2 separate regions of the Homo sapiens genome follow, and region 1 is linked to region 2. The links come from fine-mapping of genetic effects on gene expression. A gene starts in region 2. The other region holds a variant in brackets. All regions are shown on one strand. Distances are between the middles of the regions. Region 1 holds the start of GRWD1 (glutamate rich WD repeat containing 1). Region 2 holds the start of CYTH2 (cytohesin 2).

What was found. PIP is the estimated chance that this variant, and not a neighbour inherited with it, causes the effect.
Region 1: its variant is fine-mapped to the expression of CYTH2 in transverse colon (GTEx, PIP 0.96). The same link has a PIP of 0.9 or more in fibroblasts.

The regions. Positions count from the first base shown.
Region 1 is chr19:48,443,239-48,451,707 of GRCh38, forward strand. It overlaps GRIN2D (glutamate ionotropic receptor NMDA type subunit 2D), which reads left to right. Exons shown (of 14, transcript NM_000836.4): 14 at 1-1,693. The coding sequence ends at 699. It overlaps GRWD1 (glutamate rich WD repeat containing 1), which reads left to right and starts at 2,745. Exons shown (of 7, transcript NM_031485.4): 1 at 2,745-2,954; 2 at 3,147-3,264; 3 at 3,443-3,605; 4 at 7,075-7,288; 5 at 7,428-7,570; 6 at 7,796-7,993. The coding sequence starts at 2,768. RefSeq lists enhancers at 632-1,323, 2,496-2,575, 2,736-2,825. The variant C/T (reference allele first, on the strand shown) is at 4,385.
Region 2 is chr19:48,465,808-48,474,307 of GRCh38, forward strand. CYTH2 (cytohesin 2) reads left to right here and starts at 3,562. Exons shown (of 12, transcript NM_004228.7): 1 at 3,562-3,719; 2 at 4,546-4,693; 3 at 4,796-4,862; 4 at 6,518-6,636; 5 at 7,491-7,571; 6 at 8,098-8,210; 7 at 8,375-8,500. The coding sequence starts at 3,701. KCNJ14 (potassium inwardly rectifying channel subfamily J member 14) reads left to right here. Exons shown (of 3, transcript NM_013348.4): 3 at 1-1,173. It overlaps LOC105372430 (a long non-coding RNA gene), which reads right to left and starts at 3,726. Exons shown (of 3, transcript NR_186576.1): 1 at 3,204-3,726; 2 at 762-800; 3 at 1-131. RefSeq lists enhancers at 2,663-3,163, 2,868-3,027, 3,221-4,214 and silencers at 3,578-3,767, 7,812-8,012.

The sequences.
Region 1 (8,469 bases), 23 kb before region 2:
TACCTCGATCTCGAGCCGTCGCCGTCGGACTCGGAGGACTCGGAGAGCCTGGGCGGCGCGTCGCTGGGCGGCCTGGAGCCCTGGTGGTTCGCCGACTTCCCTTACCCGTATGCCGAGCGCCTCGGGCCGCCGCCCGGCCGCTACTGGTCGGTCGACAAGCTCGGGGGCTGGCGCGCCGGGAGCTGGGACTACCTGCCCCCGCGCAGCGGTCCGGCCGCCTGGCACTGTCGGCACTGCGCCAGCCTGGAGCTGCTGCCGCCGCCGCGCCATCTCAGCTGCTCGCACGATGGCCTGGACGGCGGCTGGTGGGCGCCACCGCCTCCACCCTGGGCCGCCGGGCCCCTGCCCCGACGCCGGGCCCGCTGCGGGTGCCCGCGGTCGCACCCGCACCGCCCGCGGGCCTCGCACCGCACGCCCGCCGCCGCCGCGCCCCACCACCACAGGCACCGGCGCGCCGCTGGGGGCTGGGACCTCCCGCCGCCCGCGCCCACCTCGCGCTCGCTCGAGGACCTCAGCTCGTGCCCTCGCGCCGCCCCTGCGCGCAGGCTTACCGGGCCCTCCCGCCACGCTCGCAGGTGTCCGCACGCCGCGCACTGGGGGCCGCCGCTGCCCACAGCTTCCCACCGGAGACACCGGGGCGGGGACCTGGGCACCCGCAGGGGCTCGGCGCACTTCTCTAGCCTCGAGTCCGAGGTATGACGCGGCCCCGGGGGCCCCACCGCCCCCTTGGTCAGCGCAGGCCACGGCCCGAGGGGGCGCCCGCAGTGGACAGGACCCGCGTGGGTTGGGAAGGAAAGCAGTGGAACTGGCCGGACCCCGCCTGGAGCAGCGTCCTGCGCCCCCTGGTTCTGGAGGAACCGCAAGCCGGAGAGGATTTGGTCCCTCAACTATCACCCAGCCTGAGAACGAGGGGGCGGGGGCCTTGGAGCCCACCGGACTTTTTTTTAAACCCGACAAGGGCTTTTTAACGTCACCAGATGGGGCGGGAGGTGGGGGGTTCACGCCACTCCCGCGTCCCACCTCCACGCCCGGGGCCGTGGCCCCCACATCACTGTGCAGCTCCCCGGCCCCAGCCGCGCCTCCGGGGAAGCCCGTTTTTAACCTTTCATCCATTGGGACTCAAAACTGTGAGACGCGTTCGCCAAACTGTGACCCCAGACCTTGGCCCCGCCACACAGAAACCCCTGACCCAGACTGTGACATCCGACTCCTAAAATGGTCATCCGACTCCAGACTGTGACCCCTGACCCCAAACTGTGACCCGAACCCCAGACTGTGCCCCGACCAGACTGTGACCCTTGACATCAAACCGTGACACCCCCTCCTCCTCTTCCACCCTCGGTCGCTTTTCCCTACTCTGACCTAGGACACGTCCCCAACGGAAGCCCCGCCTTCCCTTGCACCGCGATGAACCCAACCTCCCTGAAGCCAAAACTTCCCACCCTGCCGCACCTCCGGACCACCCCACTTGCCACCAAGCACATCCTCTCCAAATCCAACCCTTATTTGCGACCCTTCAGTGATGACCCAGCAGACCTCCAAAAAGCCTCCTCTGCCCAGATCTCCAGCCGGGTCTGGGGCTGGGTTGCGGAGGGGAGGGTCTGGGAGTCCACACTTCTCCACCAACTTCCCTTCCCACTCTCTTATTCCACATTGCAGTGTTTGGAATAAACCATGTTTTTATGCCTCCTCAGTCCAAGCCTAAGCTCCGTATCTGTTAGCCCCCCTCAAATTCTCTGGAGGAAACAGAAACACAAAAGTCCCACAGGGGAAGAGGAGACAGAATTAGAGAGAGAACAGAGACTCTGAAAGGAGGTGCCTGGGGAGACAAAGACCAAGAAAGAGGAGGTGGGAAGAGACCCTGAAAAGAAAGTCGAGAGGGTACTGGGGCAGATAAGAGACCCCAAGAGAGTGGTGAGATAGATCCCGGAGACAAAACATATTAAGATCAAAGGTATGGTTTTATTTCCTATGGCTATAGGTACCAAGGCTTGCTACATTCTCAATATCCTGTTCATGCAAGCTAGGAGAGTGTCTGACATATCCCAGCCAATCCGCATTATCTTGAATGCTGTTAATCTCACCAATGAGAATCTATTTCTAACATTTCATTATGTCAATTAGCCAAACCGCTGGTGCTGATGGGCGATAAAGAGAGACGAAGCACTTGTAATAGCTGCCTCCAGAGGGTGGACTTTCTGATTAAGTGCTCGCTGACCAGAGCTGAAATGTGAATGTCTGGTTAGGCAATTGACTGCCCCTAGAGGGTAGATTGAACCGCCTAACTTACAGATAATATCCATCCTGTCTACAAGAAAGCATTTTTGAAACAAATGAAAGCCATCACAACAGAGAGAGGAAAAGAAACCGGCCTTATGGGTCCTCGGGGAGTAGAAACTCAGTCTCCTTGCCAGTGAAAGAGCAAATTTGCATATATGAATAATTAATTAACTGGAAAGAACGCTCTCGGAATCAAACTGGACAATGGGGAAAACAAGCCTCCCGTAGAACTACAACTCCCAGAAGGCCTTGCCACTACCGCGAGGAACAGCGCCCAAAGTCACGCGAAGATGCAGTTTCTCCGTATCCGCAGGCTTCTTTCGCTGGCGCCATTACCTGAGTTCTCCTCCAGCGTTTCCGCACCCTCTCCGATTAGCGGTCCCAGGAGTTTCCAAGGTAACCGCGCAGTAGGGCGGATCTCATTAGGCGGAAAGCGAAACCCGGAAGTGACGCTCTTACCGGGTGTCAGCAGCGAGAGGGTTCGAAGATGGCGGCGCGCAAGGGTCGGCGGCGCACGTGTGAAACCGGGGAACCCATGGAAGCCGAGTCCGGCGACACAAGTTCCGAGGGCCCGGCCCAGGTCTACCTGCCCGGCCGGGGGCCGCCGCTACGCGAAGGGGAGGAGCTGGTCATGGACGAGGAGGCCTATGTGCTCTACCACCGAGCGCAGACTGGTAGGGCTGAGTCCGGACTCCAGGGTCCTGAGGTGGCTGATCCCGAGCCTTTAACCTGAGAGGTGCTCGGGAAGAGAAGGCTGGGGTCTAAGAGAAGTGATTTCATACCGGAGGCGGTTGATCCATGAGGGAGGTGGGGACTGAGCTCTTACTGTCCCGTCTTAACTCGTAAACCCCGCCTTCCATCCCCAGGCGCCCCCTGTCTCAGCTTTGACATAGTCCGGGATCACCTGGGAGACAACCGGACAGAGCTTCCTCTTACACTTTACTTGTGTGCTGGGACCCAGGCTGAGAGCGCCCAGAGCAACAGGTAAGACCCGAGGCTTTTCCAGGACCAGGAGGCTCAGTTTCCAGCCCCTTCCTCAGCACCCAGGAGTTAGGGCTTCCAGTTTCTGCCTCTCGCAGATCCAGGAGTCTGGGTTTCCAGCCTCTCTCCTTCCTAAGAATCCTGGAATCTAGTGCCTAACTCACCCCACAATTTCTCCCAGACTGATGATGCTTCGGATGCACAATCTGCATGGGACAAAGCCCCCACCCTCAGAGGGCAGTGATGAAGAAGAAGAGGAGGAAGATGAAGAGGATGAAGAAGAGCGGAAACCTCAGCTGGAGCTGGCCATGGTGCCCCACTATGGTGGCATCAACCGAGTTCGGGTAAGTATGGTCCCAGGAGCCTGCTCTGCATACTCTGAAACACATCTGACCCATCCCCTGTGTCCATAACTCCCAACACCTCCTCATGTTCTTTTTTTTTTTTTTTTTTTTGAGACGTAGTCTCGCTCTGTCACCCAGGCTGGAGTGCAGTGGCGCAGCCTCGGCTCACTGCAACCTCTGCCTCCCAAAGTGCTGGGATTACAAGCGTGAGCCACCGTGCCTGGCCCATTTTTTTTTTTTTTTTTTTTGAGATGGAGTCTCGCTCTGTTGTCCAGGCTGGAGTGCAGTGGTGCGATCTTGGCTCACTGCAACCTCCCCTTCCCAGGTTCAAGGGATTCTCCTGCCTCAGCCTCCCAAGTAGCTGGGGCTATAGGCGCCTGCCACCAGGCCCTTCTAATTTTTTGTTTTTTGGTTTTTTTTTGAGATGAAGTCTTGCTCTGTCGCTTAGACTGGAGGGCAATGGCATGATCTCAGCTCACTGCAACCTCTGCCTCCCAGGTTCAAGCGATTCTCCTGCCTCAGCCAAGTAGCTGAGATTACAGGTGCGCGCCACCACGCCCGGCTAATTTTTGTATTCTTAGTAGGGACGGGGTTTCACAATGTTGATCAGGCTGGTGGTGAACTCCTGACCTCGTGATCCGCCTGCCTCGGCTTCCCAAAGTGCTGAGATTACAGGCGTGAGCCACCGCATCTGGCCAATTTTTTGTATTTTTAGTAGAGACAAGGTTTCGCCTTGTTGGCTAGGCTGGTCTCAAACTCCTGACCTCGAGTGATTGATC[C/T]GCACGCCTCGGGCACCCAAAGTCATGGGATTACAAGCGTGAGCCACCACACCCGGCCTCCTTCAGTTTTTAGAAAAGTACTTGTCACATAGTTTTATACAATTTAGCTATTATGATCAGTGTCATTACATGTTAGGTACTGTTTTAGATTATGAGGATATGGTTTATGTTCTTCACTTTTCTCTTTGGTAACATAGTGAGTTATAGAACTTATCTGATGGGGCTGGCATGAGGTCAAATGAAATAACATATAGTGCCTAGAATAGCACCTGGTTGTAATATGAGGTATGTATTTTCTGTTACTATTCAGGAACTGTTTTTGGTTGTGGCTGTTTGTTTTGTTTTTGAGTCATGGTTTCACTCCCATTGCCCAGGCTGGAGTGCAGTGGCGTGATCTTGGCTCACTGCAACCTCTGCCTCCCAGGTTCAAGTGATTCTCCTGCCTCAGCCTCCCGAGTAGCTGGGATCACAAGTGCACACCACCATGCCCAGTAATTTTTGTATTTTTAGTAGAAATGGAGTCTCATTATGTTGGCCAGGCTGGTCTTGAACTCCTGAGCTCAAGTGATCTGCCCACCTTCGCCCCCAAAATGCTGGGATTATAGGCATGAGGCACTGTGTCCAGCCTGTTTATTTGTTTTTTGCTTCAAAGCTAAAACATCTTCTGATCAGGTAGACTTGTAAGTACAATGATACGGTATATGAAGAGCACTTAGAGCAGTACTTGGCTGATAGCTGGGGCTGTCTGTTTCCATGAAATTATTTTTACTATGTTTCAGTACTGTTCTAGATGCAGAGGATTTAGCAGCAAGCAAAAGGTCTCTGGCTCCATCAACTTACACACTAGTGGGGGAAGGGAACGAGATGAAACTAAGTAAATGTGTACCATGTCCAAAGGTGTTAACTATCCTGGAAAAAATCCAATGAAGTAGGGGAAGAGGGTTAGGGTGCTCCAGGAGTGGGGTGCTATTTTTAAACAGTGTGGTTAGGAAAGTATTCTGTCATAAAATGCCATTTGCATAGATACTCACAGGTAGTGGGGCAGTGAACCCTGTAAAAGAATTTGCAGGCAAGGAAAAACACAAGTTCAAAGGCCCTGGGGTGAGCTTGGCATGTTTGAAGAGTTTCAAGTGAAGCGGGAGTGTCCAGTCTGTCTGGAGCAGAATGAACAAAAGGGAGAATGACACAATTTGGGGAGCGGGCACAGAGAAGACATTGTTCAGAGCCTTGTCGGCCACTGTAAGGACTCCAGCTTTTAATTGGGAGACGTTGGAGGGTTTCAGGCAGAGGAAAGACAGGGTCTGACTTCTGTTTTAAAGTGGTCCCTCTGGCTGCTGTCCTTAAATATCAATTGCAGAGAGGTAAGGGTCGGAGGAAAGAATCCTGTGGGGAGACTTACGGTATTCAGGGGAAGGATGACATCAGTAGTAGTGTGACAGCAATAGACATCATGAGAAGGGGGTTGGAAGTGAGCTTTTTTTTTTAGATGAGACAGAGTCTCGCTTTTGTCGCCCAGGCCGGAGCGCAATGGTGCGATCTCGGCTCACTGCAACCTCTGACTCCTGGGTTCAAGCGATTCTCCTGCCTCAGCCTCCTAAGTAGCTGGGATTACAGCCACCCACCAGCACGCCCGACTAATTTTTGCATTTTTAGTAGAGGCGGGGTTTCATCATGTTGGCCAGGGTGGTCTCGCTCCTGACCTCAGGCAGTCTGCCCTCCTCGGCCTCCCAAAGTGCTGGGATTACAGGTGCGAGCCACCGCGCCTGGCCCTGGAAGTGAGCATTTTTACTGTAGTCAGCATAGGTGCTGGGCATGAGGACCAAGAATGAGTTCTGAATTTTGGGGCCTGAGGTGGAGAGAGAGCAGTTGCAGGTGGCAATTAGGAGCTTGGCTTTGGTTGTATCAAGTTTGAATGGTCAGGCTGGCACAGTGGCTGATGCCTGTAATCCCAGCACTTTGGAAAGCTGATGCAGAAGGATCGCTTGAGACCAGGAGTTCCAGACCAGCCTGGGCAATAAAGTGAGACCCTGTCTCTACAAAAAAATTTTAAAAGCCAGATGTGATGGTGCTTACCCATAGTCCCAACTACTTGGGAGGCTGAGGTGAGAGGATCACTTGAGCCCAGGAGGTTGAGGCTGCAGTGAGCCATTATGGCATCACTGCACTCCGTCCTGGGCAACAGAGCGGGACCCTGTCTCAAAAACAAAAAAGTTTGAACGGTCAATGCAGTAAGAGTCTGGAGCCCAGGGGAGAGGTCAGGGCTAGGGGTATTGGAAACCTCGTGGCTGGACTGGGTCTCCTAGTGAACAAACACAGAGGCAAGGAGATCCGAGGACTGAGTCTTGTGGCCTTCTAGCATTTAGAGGGTTACCGAGACCAGGAGCCTGAACACCCTCCCAAGGGCTGGTGGGAATTGCAGCCTCAACTCCCAGGCATCCTGGGGCTCTATCCTCCCACCTCAGCTCCCCCACCCACTCCCACCCCCTGTGGAGAGCTGTCCCAGTTACCATGCTGGTTTTTGCAGGTTGTGATTTTCTTCCCACAGAGGTTTCAAGGAGCTGTAGTCCCAGGCCTGGGAGATCTGAGGAAGCGCACTTCTGGTTCTCTGGGATATGGGGAGCGTGGGGTCAGTGCCTTGATCCTCCTCTCCCCTCGCTTCACATCACCCTTCCCCCACCGCTCTTCTGCAGGTGTCATGGCTGGGTGAAGAGCCTGTGGCTGGGGTGTGGTCAGAGAAGGGCCAGGTGGAGGTGTTTGCGCTGCGGCGGCTTCTGCAGGTGGTGGAGGAGCCCCAGGCCCTGGCAGCCTTCCTCCGGGATGAGCAGGCCCAAATGAAGCCCATCTTCTCCTTCGCTGGACACATGGGCGAGGGCTTTGCCCTTGACTGGTCCCCCCGGGTGACCGGTGAGTCCCTGGGGTGTTCAGGAGTCCCGGGAGGTCGGGGGAGCAGGGTCTGCAACAAGGGGCCGGGCGCTTAGACTCCAAGGAGGGGAGCGAGCTGCGGCCAGGTGGGGCGAGGTCATTTCCTGACTCCCTTCCCCAGGTCGCCTGCTGACCGGTGACTGTCAAAAGAACATCCACCTCTGGACACCTACGGACGGCGGCTCCTGGCACGTGGACCAGCGGCCATTCGTGGGCCACACACGCTCTGTGGAGGACCTGCAGTGGTCACCGACTGAGAACACGGTGAGGGAGGGTGGGGTTCTGGTCGTTTAGTTCTGATGGATTCTAGGCCAGGGACCTAGAATCCTAGGTCTGAGGGAAAAGAGGGCTGGGAGCCTGACGGAGGTTTAGTTTCCAGGCCAAGTCATAGTAAGGGGAACAGTGAAAGAGAGAGTAGCCCACCGCTGGCGCTTGGGCTTCACTGCGGGCTGGGGGGCATTGGGACCACTCAGACTCCGCCTCCCCCAGGTGTTTGCCTCCTGCTCAGCTGACGCCTCCATCCGCATCTGGGACATCCGGGCAGCCCCCAGCAAGGCCTGCATGCTCACCACAGCCACCGCCCATGATGGGGACGTCAATGTCATCAGCTGGAGCCGCCGGGAGCCCTTCCTGCTCAGTGGCGGGGATGATGGGGCCCTCAAGATCTGGGACCTTCGGCAGTTCAAGGTATTTTCCCAGCCGGACACCTGGGGGCTAGAGAAGCTTGCTCCCAGCAGCCCCTGGGATTTGTAGGATTTTTCCTCCTTGAATAGTTTTACACAACCAGAGCTGGAGAGCCCTTAGAACTAGACTCCTGCCTCTTCAGGGTACAGAGGAGGAAACTGAGGCTCAGCAAGAGGAAGGGTGGCGGGTCTCCACTCTTGGGGTCACTCACTCTACCAGGGGAACAGCTGACAAGAGATGGAAGGGGCTGGGGCAGCAGAGACTAGGACTCTCATCTGCCTGTGGGCAGAAGTACAGGTGTCTGTACGGCCAGTGCTGAGAGCTTCAGAGAGTTGTAGATTTCTAGATGCAACTGAGAATCGGGGCCCAGCCTGCTCGTTGTAGGAGAAGACTGAGGCACAGAAAGGACAGGAGCCGCTGTGACATGACAGCCAAGCTAGAGGTTGACATTGTGGAGCTGGGAGGGTCCCTGTGCAGGA
Region 2 (8,500 bases):
AGGAATGAAGGCTCCAGGGATACAGAGTTGTCCATTACCAAAGCCTGGAAGTTCTCATCACCTCCAGGTGGACTGCTTGGCAGTGCTAGGAGGTGGACTCAGGACTTCAGAAGCAACATTTCTGGCCTGACCTGGAAGGTGAAGGTGAAGGTGAGACCCTGTAGGGCACAGGGCTAATTAGTGGACAAGGGAAGGGGGAGGCCCAGGGCTGGTGAGTCTAGAATGCTCTGGAACCCTACACCTAGTGATGTGTGTCTATTTCTTTTTCTTTTTCTTTTTTTTTTTTTTTTGAGACTGAGTCTCGCTCTGCCGCCCAGGCTGGAGTGCAATGGCGTGATCTCAGCTCACTGCAACCTCCGCCTCCCGGCTTCAAGTGTTTCTCCTGCCTCAGTCTCCTGAGTCGCTGGGATTACAGGCATGAGCCACTATGCCTGGCTAATTTTTGTATTTTTAGTAGAGACGGGGTTTCGCCATGTTGGCGAGGTTGGTCTTGAACTCCCGACCTCAGATGATCCACCTGCCTCGGTCTCCCAAAGTGCTGGGATTACGGGTGTGAGCCACCATGCCCAGCCGTGTGTCTGTTTCTTAAAGATATTATACATATGTATATTATATATATGTAATATAAATACAGATATCTATCTATTTTTTCCCTTGGTCCCTACAACAGGCTTAGAGATGGAGTGCTAGCTAATTGGAATGAGGTCCTTTTCAAGGACCCCAGAAGCTTTGCTCTAAATCCCAATGCTGCCCCAACTTACTGTGTCACTTTGGACTCCTCTTCATGTCAGTTTCCCCATCTGTAAAAACGGGATATTGGAACTTGAAGTTCTTCAGGGGCCTTTCCAGCAGGATGAGTCCTCACTACACCAAGGGTGGGATGGGCATTCGAGTCCTGGGGATTTCCCTCCTCTCCCCAGTGCTGGATCATACGGCCTTCCAGGAGACGCTGGGATGTAAGATACTCTTGGAGGCTGGCTCTGAACTCGGGTGTCTGAATCACAGGGCAAGGGTAGGCGTGGGCTGTGGCTAACAGCCAGAGTCACTTCCCTGGCCTAGCTTGGGGACCTGGGGAGGAGGAGGTAGCTCTGGACACCAGGGTTCTTCCCATTGTGGGAGAGTGAGTGTTTTAGGGGGAGACCTGTCCCCCAGATTAAAGAACTGGGAGCCCTAGCGGATGTGTCTGCGAATGTGTTTCTCGAGCATGGGTCCTCCGACCTGGCCCCCTGCCCATGCTACCATCTACCTAAGTGCCCCGCAGGCTGGGAGCCAACTGCAGAGGGAGCCAGTGACAGTGAGGAGGACGTGTTCCCACCCCGTGTTCTGGACCGAGGGCAGCCACTGTCATTGCCATTCAGCCTTCACAAGTGCTGCATCAACCCAAATGCCCCCTCCAGCTTCTCCATCTCCCTTTATCCCTCAGAATCCCCATGTAATAACCGGATGGGATTAATTAGCTGGCTGCTCTCTCAGCTCAGGGTGTCTGGGGTAGGTAGGGATGGGGGCAATGGAAACGCAGGGTTGGGGAAGGATGTTAAGTTGGAAGTGAAGGGGCAGGGAGGGGGTTTCGTTTGAAAGGAGTATGGGAGCAGGGCAGCCCAGCCTGGGTTTCCACTGGGGAGGGCAGGGCCTGGGCCACTCATAAAGGTCAGTGAGGGGATTAGGAGCCTCCATGTCTAATCCGACAGCTTAACTAGGTCCTGGCCCTGAATCCGTCTCCACCTGCCCAGCCCAGGGACAGCAAATGAGGACGAGGCCCAGACACCACTTCAGCCCCCATTACGGCTTCCCTCTTTACAGGGGTGCCTGGGTTCCCTATTCCAGCCAGTCCCTTGACCACATTCCGTTACAAATAATGGGACATAGAGGCTGGGGAAGGGGAAGGGGAAGGGGCCTCAGAGGAGGGAGGAGTTTAAGAAGGGCAAGGGTGGCTGGGCACGGTGGCTCACGCCTATGGGCACGGTGGCTCACGCCTAGCACTTTGGGAGGCTGAGGCGGGTGGATCACCTGAGGTCAGGAGTTTGAGACCAGCCTGGCCAACATGGCGAAACCCCGTCTCTACTAAAAATACAAAAATTAGCCGGGCATGGTGGTGGGCGCCTATAATCCCAGCTCCTTGGGAGGCTGAGGTAGGAGTATCGCGTCAACCTTGTGGGTGGAGGTTGCAGTGAGCTGAGATCATGCCAGTTCATTCCAGACTGGGCAAAAGAGCAAAACTCTGTCTCAAAAAAAAAAAAAAAAAAAAAAAGGGCAAGAGTATGAGAGGACAAGGGGGACCGTGACGTGAGGGGAGCCAGAGAGGAAAAAAGGCCTCTGAGATGGGAGAAGGAATCAGAGAGGTGGGAGGATGCTGAGGAAAGGGGAGTTGTCTTAGCAGGAGGATGCTTGGGGAAGGGAGGAGTCTTAGGAGGATGCTAAGCTAAAGGAAGGAGTTTGGAGAAATGAGGGAGGAGTCTGAGCGGCAGAAGGTGCCAGGAAGGCCGAGCCTGTGCTTTCACTAAATTTCACCTTCCCCTGTTCCATTCCCCATGACCGATACCAAATAGCATAGCATTTAGAAAAAAGTAAATCTTGGCCAGGCGCGGTGGCTCACGCCTGTAACCCCAGCACTTTGGAGGGCCAAGGTGGGCGGATCATGAGGTCAGGAGTTCGAGACCAGCTTGGCCAACATGGTGAAACGCCCGTCTCTATTAAAAATACAAAAAATAGCCAGGCATGCACCATCATGGTGCAACCCTGTAATCCCAGCTACTCGGGAGGCTGAGGCAGGAGAATTGCTTGAACCCGGGAGGCGGAGGTTGCAGTGAACCGAGATCGCGCAACTGCACTCCAGCTTGGGCGACAGAGCAAGACTCTGTCTCAAAAAAAAAAAAAAAAGAAAAAACGAAGAAGTCTTTTGTTTCACCACTCCACGACTCCGAAGAGGCTGAGGGGGATGGGGAGGGCATAGATGGTGATAAAGAAGGAGTTCGGCGGTAAGAAGGGGCTGAGAGGAGGGGAAATACGCGGAGAAGAAATGCAAAAGAAAAGGAGGCCTAAAGCCGCTCCCGGTTGCATGGCAACCTTTGCGGTCAGAAGCCAGCATGGCCTGCTAGGAGGTGTGGCTTACGGAAACAAGCCAGTTCTAGCCCCGCCTCCTAGCAACAAGACTAACAAAGTACCGCCCCCTAGCAACGTATTATCGGAGGCGGGGCTCGGTTTACCTAGACTCCAAGTGTCCAGGGCCTTTGAGCAGGCGCAGAGGTGGCTGTACCGCGTGGCTCCGCCTCCGCGCGACACTTTTCCGGGGCTTCTCATTGGAGAGCAAGCCTGTCAAGTGCTTTCTGTTGTTTCGGAGGCGGGGCCTGCTGCCCTGCCTGCACTCCGATTGGCCCCGCGGGCCGTCTACCTCTGGCCGGACATACCTACACCGGCTTTTTGTACGACTGTTGGCCCTGGAGAACGATCCTTTGGTGGCGAGGGCGGGGAGGACGAAAGCGCCCACTGTGGATTGGACAGTGTCAAAAAGAGGGGCGGTCCCTACTGAAGGGGCGGTTGGGCGACGAAGGGAAGAGTCTTTTCAGCGCTGAGGACTGGCGCTGAGGAGGCGGCGGTGGCTCCCGGGGCGTTTGAGCGGGCTCACCCGAGCCCGCGGGCCAACGCGGATCCAGGCCCGACTGGCGGGACCGCCCCGGATTCCCCGCGGGCCTTCCTAGCCGCCATGGAGGACGGCGTCTATGGTAGGTCGGGGAGGGGCGGGGTCGGCTGGGAGTTGCTGGAGCGTTTTCTCCTGAACGTTCCGCCGCGAACGTTTCCCCCTGGCGCGCGGCGCCCAGAAGCGTTCGGCTCAGTCGTAGACTTGTCGCGCCGCTTTTGTTGGGCGCTGGACGGGCTTCCGGCGGGGCCCGAAAGCCGGGCGTTCCAGGCCATTGTTTGGGCTGAGCCTGTTTCCGGTGGCGGCGGGAGGGGCGGGATGGAGTGGTGGAGGCGAGGCCGGGGCGGAACCATTCCCGCTGGAGGGGCGGGCGAGCCCAGCGCCTGCCGGGGCCGGGGAGGGGCGCTTGGGTTGCGGGGAGGGGAGAAATCTTGGGGGGCGGGGGCCTTCGATGTCCCGCCCCACCTTCCCAACTCTCCTGAGCTGTCATCAGTTCCCCCGGCTGTAGTGACTTTTCATGGACCCAGTAGTCCGGATAACCAGGTCCCCAGCTACCTCGCCAGTAATGGAGTCAGAAAACCAAGGCCTCAGTCCCCTTCCAAGTAATGGACCTAGAAGCCGAGGCCCCCAGCCCTTTCTTCCCTCAGATCTAAGAGCTCAGGCACCCATTCCCCTTCTCCCTCAGACTCAGGAATCCGGGCCCCAATTCCCCTTGTCCCCCAGGACTCAAGAGTTTAGAGCCCCAGCTCTTTCTCCTCTGCAGGGAGGAATCCAGGCCCCCAGCCCATTCTTCTGTGCAGACATAGGAAGCCCCTTACACATCCTCTCCCAGCTCTGTCCGCCCCCAGATTGCAGGAATTCAGGCTCACGGCCCCTAGCACTGACTTTTAAACCTTGACCCCGATCCCTAGAACCCCCAGACCTGACTCCGGAGGAGCGGATGGAGCTGGAGAACATCCGGCGGCGGAAGCAGGAGCTGCTGGTGGAGATTCAGCGCCTGCGGGAGGAGCTCAGTGAAGCCATGAGCGAGGTGGAGGGGCTGGAGGCCAATGAGGGCAGGTGAGGGCTGGGGCGGATGACCTAGGGGGCGTGGGGTTGGCTGAGGCCAGGGATGCCCAGGCATTGACCCTCCACCCCCAACCCTGCTCTCTGCTCCTGCAGTAAGACCTTGCAACGGAACCGGAAGATGGCAATGGGCAGGAAGAAGTTCAACATGGACCCCAAGAAGGTGCTTGGGGCCACAGGACTGGGATCAGCTGGGCAAACATCCAGGCAGGGGCTTCTGGCACCTCCGGGTTCCAGAAGCGTGATGGTGCCGGGTCTATTCTAGGTGGACAGACTTGGTCCTAATCCCTGGATTCAGATACTGGCTGTCCATTTGTTTTCTGAACACTGAACACTGACCAAGTGTTCCAGCCCTCCTGACTGTTTTGTCCCCTGCCTGGAAGGTCGTCTTCCACTTTCTACTTGTATGGGCGCATTTCTGGTCCCAAGATGAGCTCGAGTCTTGTAGGGGCTGTGGACAAAGTGACATGCACAAAGGAGAGTTGACCTCTCTCCCACAAAGGTGCCGTGACGGAGGAAGGTATCAGGGTAGTGGACCTCTGGAGGAGGCAGGCTGGTGGAGTCAGGGAGGGCTTCCTTGAGGAGGAGACATTCAGGTCGGGTTTGAAGGATGAGTAGGTGTTCACCAGGTGGAGGAAAGGCTTTTGTTCACCTACTCTTTGTGTGTGTGTGTGAGACAGAGTCTTGCTCTATCACCCAGGCTGGAGTGCAGCGATGTGATCTCGGCTCACTAACCTCCGCCTCCTGCGATTCTCCTGCCTCAGCCTCCCAAGTAGCTGGGCTTACAGGCTCCCACCACCATGCCCAGCTAATTTTTGTATTTTTAGTACAGATGGGGTTTCACCATGTTGGCCAGGCTGCTTCCAAACTCCTGACGTCAGGTGATCCGCCCGCCTCAGCCTCCCAAAGTGTTGGGATTACAGGCATGAGCCACCGTGCCTGGCCTGTTCACATACTCATTTAACACCCATTTTCTGAGGCCTCTCAAGAGTCTGATCCTGTGTAGGGCAATGCTGGGGACCCAAAGAAGAATTAGATGCTGCCTTGTGCTCAGAGAGCCCTTGGACACCGATACCACAGTTCACAGTGAGATAAAGCAGTAGTAGAGAGGTCTTCGTAGCACAGAGAGTGAGAGAAACCTCCAGTCTAGCCAGGGCTTCGAGTTCACAGCCCTTGAAGGACTGCGTCTGCTAACAGGTTGTCACGTTATTCTTTCCTGAAGCAATTGGAATTCTGTTCAGTCATTCAACAAACATTGATTGGCTGGGTTCGGTGGCTTATGCCTGTAATCCCAGTGCTTTGAGAGGCCGAGGAGGGAGGATTGCTTGAAGCCAGGAATTTGAGACCAGCCTGGGCAGCATAGTGATAACTCATCTCTAGAAAAAATATAAATAAATAAATTAGCCAGGTGTGTTGGGGCATGCCTATAGTCCCAGCTTCTGAGGAGGCCGAAGTGAGAGGATCCCTTGAGCCCAGCAGTTCGAAGCTGCAATGAGCTGTGATCACGCCACTGCACTCCAGTCTGCAATAGAGCGAGACCAGGTCTCAGAAAAAAGAGAAAATGTACTGAGCACCTGTGCCTTGCCAGACCCTGTTGTTGGTGCTGGAATTAACCAGGCAAAGGCAGAGAGGGTAGGCCATGAAGTGCAAAGGCCATGAGTTGGGAAGAATGCTATTTAAGACCTGTGAGAAGGCTGAAAATGAAACCTGGCCCTGGTCTGTTGAGGGTGGGGGTAGGTCTGGATGCTGAGGTTCCCAGGGAGGTGAGTGGGGTGGCTTTCTGGCCCTCAGCACTGAGACCTTGTCCCCACCCACCAGGGGATCCAGTTCTTGGTGGAGAATGAACTGCTGCAGAACACACCCGAGGAGATCGCCCGCTTCCTGTACAAGGGCGAGGGGCTGAACAAGACAGCCATCGGGGACTACCTGGGGGAGAGGTACGGTCACCACTCAGCTCCTGTGGGGCCCCTCCCTCCCACCCCCCAGACCCAGCTCCTGCCCTCACACTGGCAGCTCACAGGTGGAACAGCCCTGCAGCCTCCCCGCAGAGGGGCCCTGGCAGATCAGCCTTCTGACTGGACTGTGACAGAATGGACTGACATGGGCTAGGGGAGCCTGCGGCCAACCGAGAGCATCTGGGGATGTGGGGCCTTCTGGAATTACCTGGCAGTTGTGGGGAAGCATCCATTTATGTCTGAGAAGGGTAGAGAACATCTCTCAAGGATCATGGGAGCTTGAGAACCGTGGGTAGACCATGGCTGTGCATAGGCACTGGGTGGCCATCTGGGAGCTGTGGGGACCGCTGGGCCCTTGTGGGAGCTTAGGAGTTGTGGGGGTCATTTGGAAGCCTAGGGTGCACAGGACTGGACATCAGATGATTGGAGGCCATCTGTGGACGTCTGGGAATCAGGGATTTATAGAGATCTGGGGTGCTTGGGAAGCATCTCTGGATGTCTGGGGGATGTGGGGGCTGTGTCTGGATACCTGGGGAGCATGGGGATCATTTGAGAGAGGTGACAGTAGGTAGCATACATGTTTGCGGCATTTCTCCCAACTGTACAAAGGTCTGGCCTAAGCAGGGTTCCCAAGCCAGATATTCCTCCCAAGAGTGTGTTCTGAGCATCCCCCACCCTGGGGGCAGGCCTGTGTGGGAGTCCAGCAGGAAACTTCACCCTCGGCAGTGGGCAGCTGTGGTGCAGTAGAGGGGGCACGACTTCCCCAGGGCATTGCCCTTTGCCCATTCCTGCCCCATCCTTTCCAAACTGTATGTGTCTTTGTCCCATCCTTCCAGGGAAGAACTGAACCTGGCAGTGCTCCATGCTTTTGTGGATCTGCATGAGTTCACCGACCTCAATCTGGTGCAGGCCCTCAGGTGAGTGAGGGGGAGGGGTTTGGAACGCCAGGAATGTACCTGTCAGGGCCTTCCTAGTTACAAGTGACAAACCTTACTCAAGAAAAAAACAGAAACAAGCAAAACAGAAACAAAAACTAGGGAACTGAGTGTGTCCTGCACCATAAAAGTTCAGGGTTATGGCCTCCTTCAGGTATGGCTATATCCAGGAGCTCAAATGGTGGTCAGAAAGTCGACTTTCTTTGCCTCTTGTATTTGCCACTGTGTCAGCATTGCTCTCTGCAGACCCGCTTACCTGATAACAAGCCTCAACCAACCCCCAGACCTGTCTAGCGAACTTAGCAGAAAGAGGCTATTTCTGTAGGGATTCACAACACTCCCGTGGCCAATGCCCATTGGTGAGACTGGATCATGTGACCATACCTGAAACAACTGCTGAGGCCGGAAGGTCGGGATTCCTCGTGGACCAGTTCCTAACACAGGGACTGAGAGTGGGGACAGGCTCCCACCAGCCCTGGCATCCATTCCTGGCCCCTCCCCAACCCAGGCAGTTTCTATGGAGCTTTCGCCTACCCGGAGAGGCCCAGAAAATTGACCGGATGATGGAGGCCTTCGCCCAGCGATACTGCCTGTGCAACCCTGGGGTTTTCCAGTCCACAGGTGCGGGCCCCAAATCCTGGGTCCTGGGAAAGAGGAGACTGGGGCCCAGACTCCTAGGTCTGAGGGAGGGAGGGGGCTGGGAGCTGGGAATCCTGGGTCCTGGGGAATGGGGGCACTGGGGACTGACATGCCTGGGTCGTCACCACCTGCCCTGTCCGGTGCAGACACGTGCTATGTGCTGTCCTTCGCCGTCATCATGCTCAACACCAGTCTCCACAATCCCAATGTCCGGGACAAGCCGGGCCTGGAGCGCTTTGTGGCCATGAACCGGGGCATCAACGAGGGCGGGG